Regions from separate parts of the Homo sapiens genome. Here region 2 is linked to region 1. The links come from fine-mapping of genetic effects on gene expression. A gene starts in region 1. The other region holds a variant in brackets. All regions are shown on one strand. Distances are between the middles of the regions. Region 1 holds the start of PTPN18 (protein tyrosine phosphatase non-receptor type 18). Region 2 overlaps PTPN18 (protein tyrosine phosphatase non-receptor type 18).

Region 1 (5,376 bases):
CGACTTGTGGAAGGTCCCAACCAGGAAGTCACACGGTGAGGGTTGAACTCAGACCCTCTCGGCACCCACCCCCTGCACACTCAATCTGTGACATTGTCTTGTAAGCAATAACTGTAATGAAATATATTATGGGCTATGTAGCTAAACATATAAGACAATGTACAATGAATGCATAGGCATTATAATGGATAACATATTATGTACAAGATACTATAGGCACTGTGTTACTGGGAGATTATAATAATAATTAGTGAATCGTGTATTACCATCATCGTCAGGTATTCGTAATCTCAATGATAATAAGTAACACCCATGCCACCACTGTGTGCCAGCCACTATTCTAAGTGCTTTACTTGTGTCCATTGGGTCATTTAAGCCCTCATGATGCCCTTGTGTAGTGGGAACACCTAGAAGAGCGCAGTGATTCCTGCACATGCGGGAGGCAGGCTTGGGGAGCAGGGGTGCCCTCGCCACCCAGCCTTCCGCATGTGAGGCCCTCCGCACTGTACACGGTTCAGAACCCACCCAGTCGCATGATGTCATATATCACATGGGTATTATGTTTACATTTGTTACACACATTCTTATATTGTATAATTATATATTTTACATTTATTATGCATTTCTTAGTTTCTTATATACAATGTTTCTACATGTGTGTAAATTACTTAGGTTTATAATTATCTGTTACTTTTTTTTTTTTTTTTTTTGAGATGGAGTCTCGCTCTGTTGCCCAGGCTGGACTGCAGTGGCGCGATCTCGGCTCACTGCAAGCTCCGCCTCCCGGGTTCACGCCATTCTCCTGCCTCAGCCACCCGAGTAGCTGGGACTACAGGCGCCCGCCACCACGCCCAGCTAATTTTTTGTGTGTTTAGTAGAGACGGGGTTTCACCGTGTTAGCCAGGATGGTGTGGATCTCCTGACCTCGTGATCCGCCCGCCTCGGCCTCCCAAAGTGCTGGGATTATAGGCGTGAGCCACCGTGCCCGGCCATCTGTTACATATTTTATATCTACTTATGAATTTATCAAATAACTTTGGTCATTTTATAAATTATAATCTTTGTTATATTCATTTGTTGTATTGTTTTATGCAGTTATGCAATGTTTATTGTATAAACGGTCATTTATAATACTTTTATATATTTGTCATATTTCTAAACTTGATACATGTCACCATATATCAGTTTATGCGTTTGTATGGTATGTTTCTATGTCTGGTACATAAGCGATTACACTTTAAACACGTCATCAACTGTAATGTACAGTGCCTAGCATTCTGCGTGAGCCTTCCTAATGCTGGGCTTGCACTACCTGTATTGTAACGTTTAGATTTTTTGTTTGGTTTTGTTTTGTTTGAGATGGGATCTCACTCTGTGGCCCAGGCTGGAGTGCAGTGGCACCATCTCAGCTGTGCAGTGGAACCATCTCAGCTCACTGCAACCTCTGCCTCCCAGGTTCAAGCGAGTCCCCTGTCTCTGCTCCCTAGTAGCTGGGATTACAGGCATGCGCCCATGCCCAGTTGATTTTTGTATTTTTAGTAGAGACGGGGTTTCGCTGTGTTGCCCAGGCTGGTCTCGAACTCCTGAGCTCAAGCGATCCTCCCACCTCGGCCTCCCAAAGTGCTGGGATTACAGGTGTGAGCCACCGCACCTGGCCCACGTTTAGAATCTTTATAGGCAGTGACGAACGCCCCTACGAAGTGTGCGCCCAATATGTACTAAGTGCTTTTCACCCACATCATTTAATCCTTAGACCAGTTTGGTCATTCATGTCCCCATTTCACCAAGGGAGAAGCCGAGGTCAGAGGGGCCAGGTAGACCGCCTGGACCACACGCGGATGGCCGGGACGCGGATTCGGGACGGGAAGCGGATTCGGGCCCGGACGCGGATTCGAGCCCGGCGTTCACACCCTCACCACGCCACAGCCTCCGTGTTCCTCTTCGCCCTGCTGCAGCCCCTTCCTTCCTGTGGTCACAGGGGACAGTCAGGTCGCCAGAAGCGGCGGGGCCGGGGCTGTCCAGCGCAGCAGGGCCGCCCGCCCTCCCCTGCGGCGCCCGCCCCACCTGTCCCGCCCGCAGCCAGGTTGTTCCGGGAGCGCGACGAGGACACCGGGAACGAGGGTGTGCACGGTCCGTCCCGGCCTGGCCGTGGACGTCGCGCTCCGGGGCCGGGGGGCAGAGAGTGAAGACGGAGACAGCAAGAGCGACAGAGAAGTGCTGGGGAGAGAAACACGGAGAGACCCCCCGAGGCGGGGAGACACCGGGGACACCGAGACAGAAAGGCAGAGCCCGCCGTGCGCGGAGGACAGGCGTACGCAGGGCCAGGGCCGGGGCGCGCCGCTCGCGGACCCCGTGTGCCACTCACGCTGAACTCGCCGGCGAGGACTGCCCCCTCCCGGCCGCCCCGCGCTTCCAGCCGCTCCAGGAAGCTCCGCGCCGAGTCCAGGCTGCGGCTCATGGCGCCGCGGGCCAGCAAGGTCCAGCCCGGCCGCCGCGCGCGCGGCGAGTGTGGACGCCGCGGGAGGCGGAGGCCGGTGACTGAGTCCCCGCCCTTGCCTCGGCAGCCAATGGAAGCGCGCAGCGGCGGGCAGGGCGCCCCAGCCACCGTGTTCTGAGCCCGCGTAGCCCCACCCCGGGCGCTCGGGCCGCTGTGGCCGGAGCCCTAGGTCCTCGCGGGCTGCCCTGAGCAGAGTCCAGCGCCGGCGCTTCCCCTTTTTTTCGGCTGCCGCGCCCACTGGTGGGGGGGTGGCACGGTCCCAGGTTCGCTCCCTGCCGCTTGGGACCCGCCCTCAGATCGGGATCCGCGCCCAGGGGCCGACCTCCGGGTGCCGGCTCTGGGTGGACGGCCGAGCGGTCTCGCCGGGCCCTCCCGCCCGTCCCCTGGGAGCCAGGCCGCGCGGAGTCCGAGCTGGGGCGGGCAGCAGCCTTGGGTGGAGACGGTCGCCGAGATCAGGCTGCCCCTCGTGCCAGAGGACCCCGGGTCGGGGGCGTCCCGCGCTGTGCGCTCCAGCCGGGCCCAAGGGAGGCCGGGGAGGGGCAGCCACGCCGTGGGAAAGGCCAAGTGGCAGCGGGATCTTCTCTGTGTATTTCCCGAGGAATTTGTGGTTCCTTTTTCCCGGATGCGCTGGGGCACCAGGGTCAGTCCTGTGTGAGCATCTCGACCTGCACAAGCCTGCTGGGAAACAGAACTGAGGCACTGGAAGTGGGTTCTGGGGAACGAAGAGCTTCTCTTTTTTGCCTGCCCTGACACTCCCATCTTCAGAAAGTGTGCAGAGGTCAGAGGAGAGCCGCCGTTCCAGCTTCCGGGATCACCGAGGGGAGGCTGGAGAGAATGGACTGGCACCTGGGTCTCTTCAAGGACAGGCCTAGGTTAGCCCCCTTCTCGCCGAGGTCGGAAGAATTAAGAGGGGTGTCACTGGAAGGGGCGTCAGTGGACACCAGTTTGAGGTCGTTGAGGGGTTGAAAGGTAGCATTGGGGCCTGGATGTGTGCCTGAGTCTCTGAAGGGTCAACAGGGGCATGATGTCAGGTGGTCAATTTAATTCACTAGGGGCTATCAGAGTATTTAAGGGCACACTTTCTTAAAGGTCCCGGTAGGAAGTGGTTTTGGCTTTGCTATCGCTGCCCCAGCTGCTTAACTCAGCTGTGGCAGCATGAAAGCAGACAATATAGTGTGGCTGTGTCCCAAAGAAACCATTTATGGACAAAGAAATCAGAATTTCATGTAATGTTCATGTGTCATGAATTATTCTAGTGTGTGTGTGTGGCCTACAGGCTGTCGTTTGCTGACCTTGGCTGAAGTGATGGAGCGATCAAAGTGGCTCTGTGGGGATCAGCAGCTAGGGCTGTTTGATTTATCGTGGGGTCCGCAGGGGTCACTGTGAGATTCATGTTCATCATTTATCAGTTTCATCTTTGAGCATTCTCAGGGAGGTAATTGTTTAGGATGGTGGTGATAGGGAATTCATTGGAAGCCAGTCGGGGTCCCTTGGATGTTCATGGGGGGGGGGGTGTCAGTAGATATTAATGACAGTCATTGGGAGGCCAGTGGATACTTGGGACAAGAAGTGAAAGTAATTGTGGGGCCATTGGGATTTGGAGTGTTAGTAATTGAAGGGTCCGAAGAGTCTGGGAAGTCATTGAGAGCTCTGCTCAGTGCATGATAGTGACTCTCAGTATAATCATTGAGGGTTTGTGGATGGCCATGGAGATCCAGGGAGGTAGAATACAGAAGCATCAGTAAGCTTTCAGAAAATAAAGACATTTTCTGGGAAAATGTGAGCCCCTGAGCACACATGGTTATTCAGGGCAGTCTTTATGGGCTAGAGGATCTCTGTCCAGCAGCAGGGATCCTGTTGAGGGCCTGTCCTCATAGGCTGAGGTCTGTCTGACTGGTGGAGGGCATGTCGTCCAGCTGAAGGTCTGGTTGACTAGGTGGGTGGGGTGTTCTCTCCTCTGGGGTAATGTCTCTGTCCATTTTGGGGAGGGCACCTGTCCTTGAGGGATTCTGACCTTTGCCTGGCTGGGGGGCCCAGGTGTCTCTCTGGCCACAGGCCTATTTGGATGTCTGGCTGAGGGTCTACCCATCTGTCAGTAATCTGTCTGTTTGTCCAGCTGGGTGTTTCCCTGGGATTCTGTCCATCTGGAAGTCTGTCCAGCCAGGGTGTGTGTGTGTGTGTGTGTGTGTGTGTGTGTTTGGTGGTTTGTCTATTAGAGGATCTGAGTGACTAGCCAGATGCTGCCTTGTGGCCTGTGAACATTAAGTGGCTGAGGCTGTAGTCTGCCATTTGTACTTCCAGCTGCCTTGAGTGTCTTTCTGTCCTCGTGTTCACCCTCACTCCAAGCCCCACCTTGTTGTTTAACCCACCTGTCCTCCTGACACCTGACCGTTCCTCATGTCTCTCCAAACATCCAAACTCTTAGCTTGCCCTCTGTTCAGCTCAGGCTAGGTGTGGGGGATGGGAAGACCCCACATCTTCCAGAGGCCCTGGCCCACCCCGGCTTTTCTCTCCCGGAGGACTGCCAGCTGTGTTCTTGCAATGAGACTCACTGCTGCTGGTGGCCCTCCTGTTCACGCTGCCAGCAGCAGTCTTGCACAGTGGGAGCTGCTGGCACTGCTACAGAGACCCCAAGTGTACCAAAGCCCACGTGCCATGTGCCAGTCTGTCACCTGCCCACCAGTCAGTGTGGCTACATGGGCCGCTCAACAGAGCCAAGAGGACAAGGTAGAGGAAGATGCACAGGGACAGGTGCACAAGGCTGTGAGTTCAGCCTGCTCTGAGCCTGCAAAGGGGAAAAGAGAAACTACAGTGGAGACCCCTGGCAGACACCCCTTCCTCTGGGATGCTTGCGGGGAGCTCCTTGGAGACTGCTGGCA
Region 2 (5,376 bases), 21 kb before region 1:
TAGGAGATGGCCATGAAGCATATTCTGTCTTCCAGCAAATGGTGAAGCCATTCTAGAAATACACTAATTACTCCACTCAGTCCTGGGGAGTCTAAATTTCTTTGTAATACATCTCCAACTAGAGGCATTTATCAGACATAAAATCCCCTAGACATCTAACTTGCCTTTCCAGGAAAAAAAAAAAGACAAATATAATTTAACAATAAACTTGTGTAGGAAGACAGACACTAATGGTGAGAGCTGCACATAGTTGGTGTTAATGGTAAATTTCTTGAAGTCTGATTATTCTAGTGTAATCAAAATCCTCCTCAATTCAAATAGCTCTTAGGCTCTCTTGACCCATCACTAGACTGCCTGAAAAGCAGGAAAGTTCAGTCACTTAGAGAACACATCTTAGGCACACTATTCTGTTGCTGGCACATGGGACACATGAGCTGATGAATTGAGTGTGCCTATGGGGTCAGGTTTGTCTAAGCAAAATCAAACGAACAAAGGCCTCTGAATGAGTAGTTGCCAGCGGCCTATGCAGCGACTACTTCCTCCCCACTCACTCAGCAACTTGGGCCACATTTCTGTATTGCAGGGTTGGAATGGACTTTGTTCAGCCTCAGTGAGGAAGGGACCAAACACATTTGTCCCAGGTTCAAGGAGATCATGAGATTCTCCCATTTTCCAAATGTCAACACTGGGGATGGTGTGTATACAGTAGGCACATTTCTGGGGAAGTCGGCTATCTCACCAAAATATTGCAAGTAATTGTTGATATTCTGGATGCTGACTGCTTAGAGGCATCTGCTGTACATATGACAATGCAAATTTGAAACATTGGCTGGCAGTGGCAGAGCTACTGATCCCAAACCCTGGTGGGGCTCTTTGACTGGTTTGAAGGTCAGGGTGGAGAAAGTTCAACTTTAGAGCTCTTTCCCACCAAGCTTTTCTTTTCTTATTAAATTCAAAAAATGTTTATTGATCAACAACTCAGTGCTAAACCTATGGGAGAACCCAAAGACTTAAAAACCTGGGGTCCTGCTCGCCAAGACATGTTAAATGAGATAATATAAAAATTCCCATTTCTGGTACCTGAAAAAGGCTTGGGGCTGGAGAGGTGACATCGTTCAGCTTGCTGACCTCATCAATCATCTGTCCCCAGACAGGCAGACAGATCTGTTGGAGAAGTCATCCTCAAAAGTAAGGCTGCAGAGCCAGGGTCTGTTTGAGAGCAATGGAATCCAATGGAAATCACTTCTCAAGTACACTTTATGTTTGGACATTTCTCAGCTCTTAAAGCTTCTGACATTGATTGGATGCTGGTATGGCTTTATAAACACTTGTCTTTTTCATACACTCTTAAGGATTCATGTCTCCTCGACCATTTTGTATATTCTAAAATAACTATGCCATAAAATAAATGAAACAATTCCCACTTACTGCATAGTTTATTCAGATATTGACCTTATGTTTGGGCTGAACTTAGCTATAATTGAACAAAGAGTGATAAGCCATCGTTGCTTAGTGATATTTTCTATCACCTTCGCTGAGGCTGCAGTTGGCATTCTGCAGGCTCTTTCCAACAAGACCATTTCTCTGGTACACAACTGAGCAATTACACTGACTGAGCTGAAATCCACAAGCATTTGCGGAGCACTGCTCTGTGCAGGGGAAGCTCCAAACACCTAGGTGGCAAAGAGGAGCAAGACCCATCCCTGACCCATAGAACCTGCCTGTAGCCCCCGGATCCTGCCGGCCCAGGGCAGGGGTGTGATGAAGTGGACACCAAGTGCTCTGAGGAGCAGTGTGAGGGAAGAGAAATTCTGGAGAGGGAGAAGGCCCCACATCCCCAGGGCAGGTGAGATGTGAGCTGGGTCTCCCGGGATGAAGGAGACTGGGCCGAAGGAGAGGGTAGGGAGGAGCACTCCAGTAAGGCAGTGAAGTTTGGTGGAGCACTGACCGGGTGGGAGGCAGGAGAGGAGGTGGGAGTAGGGCCTGGAGGGTAAGGTTACCAGGGGCTGAGAAGCCATTAGACTCTCAGCAGCAGCCCTGAGCTCTTGAGCCTGCCCTTTGTTTTTTATCAAGCCCCCCCCCCCACCATGTTAGTATCAGGGAAGCTCAGGGGATCCCTATTGCAAGTGGCAATTCCTCACCCTCCCCTTCTGCTTCATGAGGTCAGATATCAGCTGCCCAATATCCAGCAGCAACTTTTAATACCATGTTTTGTTTCTGAAGGTAGCAAGGACATGTAAGCTTGGGAGTATGTGAAAAAAGCACTGAATCGAGAGTTAGGAAACAGAAACAAAGTTTTCATCAATTATGTAAAGCAGCTCTCTGCCCCTGAGATTGGAAACCAACCTAACCACAAATGGGGCCTAGTTTTCTCTCAGGACGTCACGGTCTAAGACAAACAAATGCCATACAAAGGAGAGAAGTCAAGGCAGGGGATGTTGAAAGCAGAAAAGGAGAAGTAACTAACTCCTGTGAAAAGGAGGCATCATCAGATCCGATCCTACTTGGAAACTGACAGCTGAGCCTTCACTGTTCCTACTGGGTCAGAAACAAAGCAACACGAGTATGGTGCCTGCAACGGTCCCATTGACCCCCACATCCCATGGGGGTTTGTGAGAGCCCAGACAGATGCTGTGCACCCAGTGGGCTGCACTGCAGAAGAGGAGCCCTGAGCTCAGGGCATATCCAGAAGGAAACATCACCTGCTGCAGTGTCCTATTGCAAACACAGCTCTGAGATGCCCAGTTCAGGAGCGGCCAGGCCTTGCATTCCTGGATACCCAGTGTGTGAGTTTCCTGTGGCTGCCATAACAAATGACTATAAACCGTGTGGCTCAAAACATGTTTATTCTCTTACAGTTCTGAGGTCCCAAAGCCTGAAACTGACGGGTCAGCAGGGTGGTTCCCTCTACTGTCTGTGAGGGAGAATCGGCCAGGCCTCTCTCCTGGCCCCTGGTGGTTTGCTGGCAATCTTTGGCATTCCTTGGTTTGCAGACACTTCATCCCCATCTCTGCCTCCATCTCAATGACCTTCTTCTCTTTGTCTCTGCGTCTCTCTCTCTTTTCTCTTATAAAGACATCATTGGGTTTAGGGCCCATCCTAAATACAGGATGATTTCATCTCCAGGTGTTTTAATTACATTTGCAAAGACCCTTTTTCCAAATAAGGTC[G/A]CATTCACAGGTTCTAGAAGTTAGGACTTGGACCTATCTTTTTGGGGGCCACCATTCAACCCACTACCTCCAGGAAAGACCTGTAGGAGAGCAAGAGACGGGTGGAGGATTGCCTCTCCCATTGCTGAGCTTTCTTAACAAGAGAACGGTTTTTATGTCAGCCTGAAGTAGTGATCTACATGAGCAAAGACATGGGTCTGGAAAGAGGAAAAGAATATTTGAGACAAGGTGTCATACTTTACTAGAAGTGAGGAAACCCGGAGTAAATGGTGTGAGATAAATCAGCCTGCACACTTCCTAAGTGTCAGCACTGTTCTCGGAGCTGGGACAGTAGCTGTAAACCAAACAAAAACTCCTGCCCTCACGCAGCTTACATTCTGATCAGGAGAGACAGGAAACAATATTAAGAGGTAAATGTTCAAATATATTAGAGGCAGAATCTAGGAGAAAAGTATCCAAGGCAGAGAGAATAACCAGGGCAAATGCCTGAGTGGAAACTGTGCTTGCCATGCTGGGCCAGGAGTGAGGCTACTGGGTGTGAAGTCAGAAACCAAGAAGGCGCAGAGACTGGACCCTCCTCGCATGCTGACAAGGTGGCCTGCACAGCTCCACATCACATGCACATGTGTATAAAACACCAGACCAAGGCCGGGAGCAGTGACTCACGCCAGTAATCCCAGCACTTCGTGAGGCAGGGGCAGGTAGATCACGAGGTCAGGAGTTCGAGACCAGCCTTGCCAACGTGGTGAAACCCCATCTCTACTAAAAATACAAATATTAGCTGGGCATAGTGGTACACGCGTTTAATCCCAGCTACTTGAGAGGCTGAGGCAGAAGAATTGCTTGAACCTGGGAGGCGGAGACAGAGGTTGTAGTGAGCCAAGATTGCGACATTGTACTCCAGCCTGGGCGACAGAGCAAGACTCCATCTTTGGGGAAGAAAAAAAGGAAAAACAGACCTCTGAATCGGAGAAATGGACAGTTTATTACTCACAGTGAACACAGCAGCCAGAACAGTATCTTTAGTCACTTTCCCATGCCCCTATTCCCAAGAAGAGGGCATGTGGATCGTACCAGCTGGGCAGGCAGTGGGTCTGCATCCCAGGAGAGGGACCCGAAACTGGGAGACTTGGAGATTTTATCAGGGCTGTGGAGGACCTGCCTTTCTTCTCCTCCAGAGATAGATGACTCATTATCCAGCAACACAGAGGTCAGCACCGACCTCACCAGCAGCAGGCTCACAGGAGTGGCAGGGGCATTGGGAGAGTGGGAGGCAGCACAGGGTCAGCTCTTTCACGAAAACAGAGAAACGGGGCAGCTCTAGAGTGGGAGTAGGGGCACAGAGAACAGGAAGGAAAGGCGGCCGGCGAAGGTATGATATCACACCAGCTCCCACTGTGGGCACCCAAACCCAAGCCTCCTGGGAAAGTCTGGGAACTGTTAAAAATCCACACCTCAGCATCACCCTGCCAAGGGGTGGGGTGGGGTATGTACACATCCCCATCATTCCTTGATTGAAGGCTGCAGGAGAGTGGAGTTCATGCCAAGGCACTTGAGATCGACCATGGATGCAGCCAGGCAGAGGCAGAGGAAGGCCAGCCCTATCCCAGAGAAGGGCAGGACAGGGGTGGACATGGGGCCCAGGGCACTGTGGCAGTGCATACAGGGACCTGGGCAGGCACAGTGTCAGTCAGAGGTCCAGAGACCTGAAAGTGAGAGGGGCGGGACCCTTGAGGTTCAGGGAAAGAGCATCTTATACTTTTTCCATTTTGCAGTGACTTGGAGATTTGTCCACACCAGTGCACAGAGACGTGTCCTCCTTTTATTTCTTTTAACAGCCGCTTAATGTTTTATCCTAGCAGGAACCCTACCATGGGCCATTTAAAGTGTTTCAAATCTTAGGGGGCTGAGCCTGGTGGCTCACACCTGTAATCTCAGCACTTTGGGAGGCTGAGGCAGGAGGATTGCTTGAGGTTGGGAGTTCAAGACCAGTCTGGGCAACATGGCAAAAACTCATTTCTTAAAAAAAAAAAAAATTAGACCTGTAGTCCCAGCTACTCGGCAGGCTGTGTGAATAGTAAGGGGTCAGTCTGGTTGGGAGTCTGTCTGGCGGGGGTCTGGCTGGGGTCTGCCTAGATAGGTCCTGATTTGCTGGGGGTCCATCTGTCTGAATAGCTGGAGATGTGTACTCATTTGGGGGACTTGT

The links. PIP is the estimated chance that this variant, and not a neighbour inherited with it, causes the effect.
Region 2: its variant is fine-mapped to the expression of PTPN18 in whole blood (TOPMed, PIP above 0.99).

The regions. Positions count from the first base shown.
Region 1 is chr2:130,353,190-130,358,565 of GRCh38, reverse strand. PTPN18 (protein tyrosine phosphatase non-receptor type 18) reads right to left here and starts at 2,510. Exons shown (of 15, transcript NM_014369.4): 1 at 2,366-2,510. The coding sequence starts at 2,458. RefSeq lists silencers at 2,071-2,120, 2,261-2,930.
Region 2 is chr2:130,374,166-130,379,541 of GRCh38, reverse strand. It overlaps PTPN18 (protein tyrosine phosphatase non-receptor type 18), which reads right to left. Exons shown (of 15, transcript NM_014369.4): 15 at 4,137-5,376. Among named protein-coding and RNA genes, the nearest start is that of PTPN18, 21 kb to the right of the region's middle. The variant G/A (reference allele first, on the strand shown) is at 3,171.